Linked DNA regions of Homo sapiens: region 1 is linked to region 2. The links come from fine-mapping of genetic effects on plasma protein levels. A gene starts in region 2. The other region holds a variant in brackets. All regions are shown on one strand. Distances are from middle to middle.

Region 1 (2,900 bases), 580 kb after region 2:
TCTTGAACTCCTGGCCTCCAGCGATCCACCTGCCTTGGCCTCCCAAAGTGCTGGGACTACAGGCATGAGTAACTGTGCCTGGTCCTGGGGCAAAAATTTATACCCACATTGCAAGGTTTTTTTTTAAAAAACAATTGTAGTTATGCAGACTTTCTGAACTAATCTGGAGGGGGTCCACCTGCCCAGAGCTCTCCATCTCACTCTCAGGCGATGGGGGAGGCAAAGTTAGAACCCTGCTGTGAGGGCGACGGTGTACGCAGCCCTGGGGTAGTAAGCTCTCTGGTGAAGCCTCAGTGATGGGATAGGAAGGTGGCTTTTGTGAATGTATCTTTGAAGTCATTCTGTCATCATTTTGACAAGTAAAAAGAGGCAAGATGTTTTGCCAGAGGTGCAGGAACCTGAAGCTGGCCTGCTGTTGAACCTCTGTGCAGGAGGGAGTCAGGCAGATGACAGGAATGACAGGACAGGCTGGTGGCCAGCCGTGAACCCCAGGGAGGAGAAGGAAGGGAGATCAGGTGAGGCTGAGGCTCTCTATGTTGCCCAGGCTAGTCTCGAACTCCGGGGCTCAAGCAATCCTTCCACCTCAGCATCCCTAAATGCTGGGATTACAGGCATGAGTCCCCACACCCGGCCTATCACCTTTAAAATTATTTTATGTTATGTTATTATGTTGTTATGTTGCCCAGCCTGGGAAACATAGGAAGATCCCATCTCTACAGAATATTTAAAAATTAACCAGGAGTGGGCCAGGCGCGGTGGCTCACGCCTGTAATCCCAGCACTTTAGGAGGCTGAGGCGGGCGGATCACAAGGTCAGGAGATCGAGACCATCCTGGCTAACACGATGAAACCCCGTCTCTACTAAAAATACAAAAAATTAGCCGGGCGTGGTGGCGGGCGCCTGTAGTCCCAGCTACTTGGGAGGCTGAGGCAGGAGAATGGCGTGAACCCGGGAGGCAGAGCTTGCAGTGAGCCAAGATCACGCCACTGCACTCCAGCCTGGGCGATAGAGTGAAACTCCGTCTCAAAAAAAAAAAAAAAAAAAAAAATTAACCAGGAGTGGTGACATGCACCTGTTGGCCCAGCTACTCGGGAGGCTGAGGTGGGAGGATCCCTTGAGCCCAGGAGTTCAAGGCTGCAAGGAGCTATGGTCATGCCACTGCACTTCAGCCTGGGCAACAGAGTGAGATGCTGTCTCAAAAAAACAAACAAAAAAAGAAGTTTAAAAATAATTTAAAAAGAAAAGACTCGGCCAGGCGTGGTGGCTCACGCCTGTAATCCCAGCACTTTGGGAGGCCCAGGTGGGCG[G/T]ATCACGAGGTCAAGCGATTGAGACCATCCTGGCCAACATGGTGAAACCCCATCTCTACTAAAAATACAAAAATTATCCGGGTGTGTTGGAGCACGCCTTTAGTCCCAGCTACTTGGGAGGCTGAGACGGGAGAATCACCTGAACCCAGGAGGTGGAGGTTGCAGTGAGCCAAGATCGCCCTACTGCAGTCCAGCCTGGCGACAGAGCGAGACTCCATCTCAAAAAAAAAAAAAAAAGGCTGAGTATGGTAGCGCGGTGTCTCAAGCCTGTAATCCCAGCACTTAGGTAGGCTGAGGCGGGGAGATCATGAGGTCAGGAGTTCAAGACCAGCCCGACCAACATGGTGAAATACTGTCTCTACTAAAAATACAAAAATTAGCTGGGTATTGTGGCACACGCTTGTAATCTCAGCTACTCAGGAGGAGTAGCCTCATTTGAACCCAAGAGGCGGAGCTTGCAGTGAGCCGAGATTGTGCCACTGCACTCCAGCCTGGGTGACAGAGCAAGACTCCGGCTCAAAAAAAAAAAAAAGAGAGTGAAAAGACAAGACAATCCACAGGATGGGAAAAAATATTTGCAAATCAAACAACTCAGTGCAAAAGTGGGTAAAGAGCCAAGTGTGGTAGTACACACCTGTAGTCCTAGCTACTTGGGAGGCTGAGGTGGGAGGATTGCTTGAGCCCAGGAGTTTGAGACCAGCCTGGGCAATATAGCAAGACCCCATTTCTACAAAAAAAAACTGTGTAAAATAAATATTTATCCAAATAATATACTCAAATGGGCTGGGCACTGTGGCTCACACCTGTAATCCCAGCACTTTGCAGGGGCTGAAGCAGGTGGAGCTCTTGAGCCTCAGAATGGGAGATGAGCCTAGGCAACATAGCGAGACCATGTCTTACAAAAAAATACAAAAATTAGCCAGGTGTGGTGGTACATGCCTGTGATCCCAGCTACTTTGGAGGCTAAGATGGGAGGATTGCTTGAGTCCAAGAGGTTGAGGCTGCAGTGAGCCATGATCATGTCACTGCACTGCAGCCTGAGTGACAGAGCAAGACCCTGTCTCAAAAAAAAAAATCATTAAAATTAAAAAATAAAATTAGCCAGGTATGGTGGCACGAGCCTGTGGTCCTAGCTACTTGGAAGGCTGAGGCGGGAGGATCGCTTGAGCTCAGGAGTTGGAGGTTACAGTGAACTGTGATTGCACCATTGCACACCAGACCAAGACGCTGACTCAAAAAAAAAATTGTTTTTAATTGAAAGACAGTAAATGCACGCCCCCTTGTGGGTGCATGTTTACGCTTGCTCTCCTTTTGGGACTTCCTGGGAACTTCTCACTTGGTCTTCTCAGTTCACGGGGGTTATAGCCCTACAGCTCTGTTCTTGCTCCGATCTATTGATTAGTTCCTTTCTCAGGAAACCAACCATCAGGCCTCCCAGGTAGTATCAAGGAACTGAAACTTTACAGATCACTGCATCTGGACAATATGTTACCAGACCCCATACCCATCATAACTGCCTAATCATGCTGGGTGCAGTGGCTCACACCTGTAATCCTAGCACTTTGGGAGACTGAGGCAGGCGGATCACCTGAG
Region 2 (2,884 bases):
TGGTTGTGGAGGAGAGATGTCAAGAGTCAACCACCCTCAGCCCAAGGTCCCTCTTCTTAGTTTGTTGTTTTGGGCAAATCATCCAACTTCTATGGGCCTCAGTTTCAACACCCATAAAATAGGCACAACAATCTCCCTCCCCAAAGATACCCTTCGGTGTTCGTGAGCATAGAGCACGCCAGCTCCTGCTGCACAGAAACCTTTCTGACTCTCTGGAACAACTCGCTCCCCTCGGAAGTGACTCACCTGAACCCGCACCTGCTCTACTACGTTCAACTCCTCTAGCGTCAGTGGATGCTCCGGGTCATTGATGGAGCGAATCAGATGTGGGAAGTGAAGGAAAAGGGACTCTGCGCCCTTGCCCACTTAGAACCCTCTGCCAGGAACGCCCTGCTGGGATGCGGCTCCACCAGCTGCTCGATATCACTGCTCCCCCCACCGCAAGCCCCCGGAACCCGCCCGCGCCCAGCAGCGGCGGATATCGAAGATCTCGCGTGCGTCGATGCTGTCGGGAACCTGCTCGTCCTCCTCGCCTGCCGTCACAGGCCGCTCCCCAGAGCGCTGGTAGATGAGGGGGTTGGCATTCTCCAGGAGGCCGCCGCCGACCCCGCCGCCGCCTACCATCGCGGAACCACCACCGCTGATCCTAGCAGGCGTGCGCTTCCGCTCCAACCCGCGCACTTCCGGAGAACGGGAAGGGGGCGTGGCGTGGCGACGGAGTCGCGCGAGGGACACGCCGCGTTGTGGGTTCTCGGCCTGAGGTGCGAGAGAAGCGGTGACCGCGGCCCTGGCTGCTCGGACCCGGGAACATGATGGTCGCTGGAGCAGAAGGCGCTGAGAAGGGACCACGGCGGCGCTGGGTCGTGCGAGCCAGTAGCGGGCTGAAACGTAGAGGCCAGAACCAGGTCTCAGGGGGCACTAAAGGCGGTCGGAGGTAATCCCCACACCGCTTCCTCCTGGAAGTCAGGCTGGCCGGGAGCTCCCGTATCCAGGACGGTTGGTCGCCTCTGGCCTGGCAGGGATCCTAGTGTCTCGGGACCTCCCGGTGACGCGCCTGCCTCCCCTGCTGCACCATAGGCCCGGGAGTACGGCGTCCCCACAGCTTGGACCGGCAGGGGCTCGTGAAATGTTTGTCAAGTGGATAAATGACCATGGCCGTGGTCTCCGCGGGAGGTGAGGAAACTGAAAGCCACCGAGGAAAAGGGGGGCGCTCCTTAAGAAGTGCCGCGGTCACGTGTACGTTTCAAAAGAATGGCGTGACTGAGTAGGGAGGGGACCGCGGAGACCCTCAGACCCTGGACTGTAAGGAGATGAGGGGCCGTGAAGGGGAACCCAGGAAACTGAGTCCTGAAAGCAAGGAGGAACTTCCAGAATGAAGGGCGCCGACACTCCTTCCTGCCTTTGCTCAAGCGGTTCCTTCACCCCGATCAAGTTCCTTCCCATTTCTCCATCTGGGGGATCCTGAACGTGCACATCCTCAGAGAAGCCCTCCTGGGGTCTCCAATTCTAGTTTATTGCCCCCTCCTATCGATCCCCCAGCGCGCTCATCGGGCCTGTGGACAAGGACAGGTTTGAAGAGAGGATTCCCTGGATCGCGGAAGGGCTGCAGGAATGGCACAGCCCCTTCCGAGGATGCCAAAGGAGCCCGGGCAAAGGAAAGTGGCCGTGCCCGGGCCTGCCTACCACTAGATCCCCACCCACCTATGACTGCTCAGTCCCGCTCTCCTACCACACCCACCTTTCCCGGCCCAAGCCAGCGCACCCCGCTGACTCCCTGCCCAGTCCAAACTCCAAGGCTGGGCAAGGCACTGATCCACTGCTGGACAGACCCGGGGCAGCCTCTGGGTGAACAGCAGCGTGTCCGCCGGCAGCGAACCGAGACCAGCGAGCCGACCATGCGGCTGCACAGACTTCGTGCGCGGCTGAGCGCGGTGGCCTGTGGGCTTCTGCTGCTTCTTGTCCGGGGCCAGGGTGAGGCTCCCTCGGAGGGGCGACAGGGACCGGGCTCAGATCTGCCAAATGCTGCGGAGGCAGAACCTGACAGTGCGGGAGGGCAGGCGCCTGGGAGGTAGGAGCTGGTGGAGATGACAGCGTGGAACTCGTGAGCCCCACGCAACGCCTCCCCGCCGCCCAAGGTGGGCTCCTAGAAGCACAGAAAGGGTCGGGCTGGGGGACACCACGGCAAGGAACCAGCGGAGTACAGGGGCCCCAGGAGCGCCGGGACATGCCAGGCCGGGTAGGCAGCCTGGGGTCGGAGTGGGTGAGGGATTGGGGTGTGGGGATTCAGTCCATTTCCCTCTTATGATTGTGGCTGTAGCGGGTGCTGCCGGCCGGTAATAACAGTAATAGCTTCTGGCAGCATCTGGCTCTCAGTGTGTGGCGTCCTTGGCCAGGGGGGATGCCCTGAGCCCTCCAAAGGGGCCTCAGACAAGGATAGTGGTCCTTGGGGAACAGAAGCCCCCAGGCGCCAAATCCTAAAGCAGATCTAAGAGGCCACAGTGGCTGGGTGCGATTGGCTCACTCCTTTAATCCCACCACTTTAGAAGGCCAAGGGAGAGTATCGCTTGTGCCCAGGAGTTGGAGGCCAGCCTGGACAACATAGTGAGACTCGGAGTGTACAAAAAATTGAAAGAAATTAGTGGGCTGTGGTGGTCTGTGACCTGTAGTCCCAGCTACTTGGGAGGCTGAGGTGGGAGATCACTTTAGTAGGGGAGGTTGAGGCTGCAGTGAGCCTTCATCCCACTACTGCACTCCAGCCTGGGTGAAAAAGCAAAAATCTGTCTCCAGAAACAAGAACCAAAGAGCTCGTGGTGTCCCTCATGCCATTTACCTCATCCTGGGCAAGGGCACAACTTGGCTTCCAGGGCAAAGGTGAAGGCTCTGT

Which allele goes with the higher level. Alleles are on the strand shown, and positions count from the first base shown. The strength of an association depends on the size of the effect and on how common the allele is.
In carriers of allele G in region 1, the plasma level of the protein whose gene starts at base 1,776 in region 2 tends to be higher than with T alone (moderate association).

What was found. PIP is the posterior inclusion probability: the model's chance that the variant is causal. Protein levels are from antibody-based Olink assays in UK Biobank. Linkage for the fine-mapping came from a reference panel and not from the study's own genotypes, which makes the PIPs less certain.
Region 1: its variant is fine-mapped to the plasma level of the CES2 protein (UK Biobank, PIP above 0.99).

The regions. Positions count from the first base shown.
Region 1 is chr16:67,511,963-67,514,862 of GRCh38, forward strand. No RefSeq gene overlaps it. Among named protein-coding and RNA genes, the nearest start is that of RIPOR1, 15 kb to the right of the region's middle. RefSeq lists silencers at 2,370-2,557, 2,690-2,859. The variant G/T (reference allele first, on the strand shown) is at 1,308.
Region 2 is chr16:66,933,741-66,936,624 of GRCh38, forward strand. CES2 (carboxylesterase 2) reads left to right here and starts at 1,776. Exons shown (of 12, transcript NM_001365405.1): 1 at 1,776-1,971. The coding sequence starts at 1,896. It overlaps CIAO2B (cytosolic iron-sulfur assembly component 2B), which reads right to left and starts at 662. Exons shown (of 5, transcript NM_016062.4): 1 at 483-662; 2 at 247-326. The coding sequence starts at 624. RefSeq lists enhancers at 268-317, 348-547, 1,386-1,998.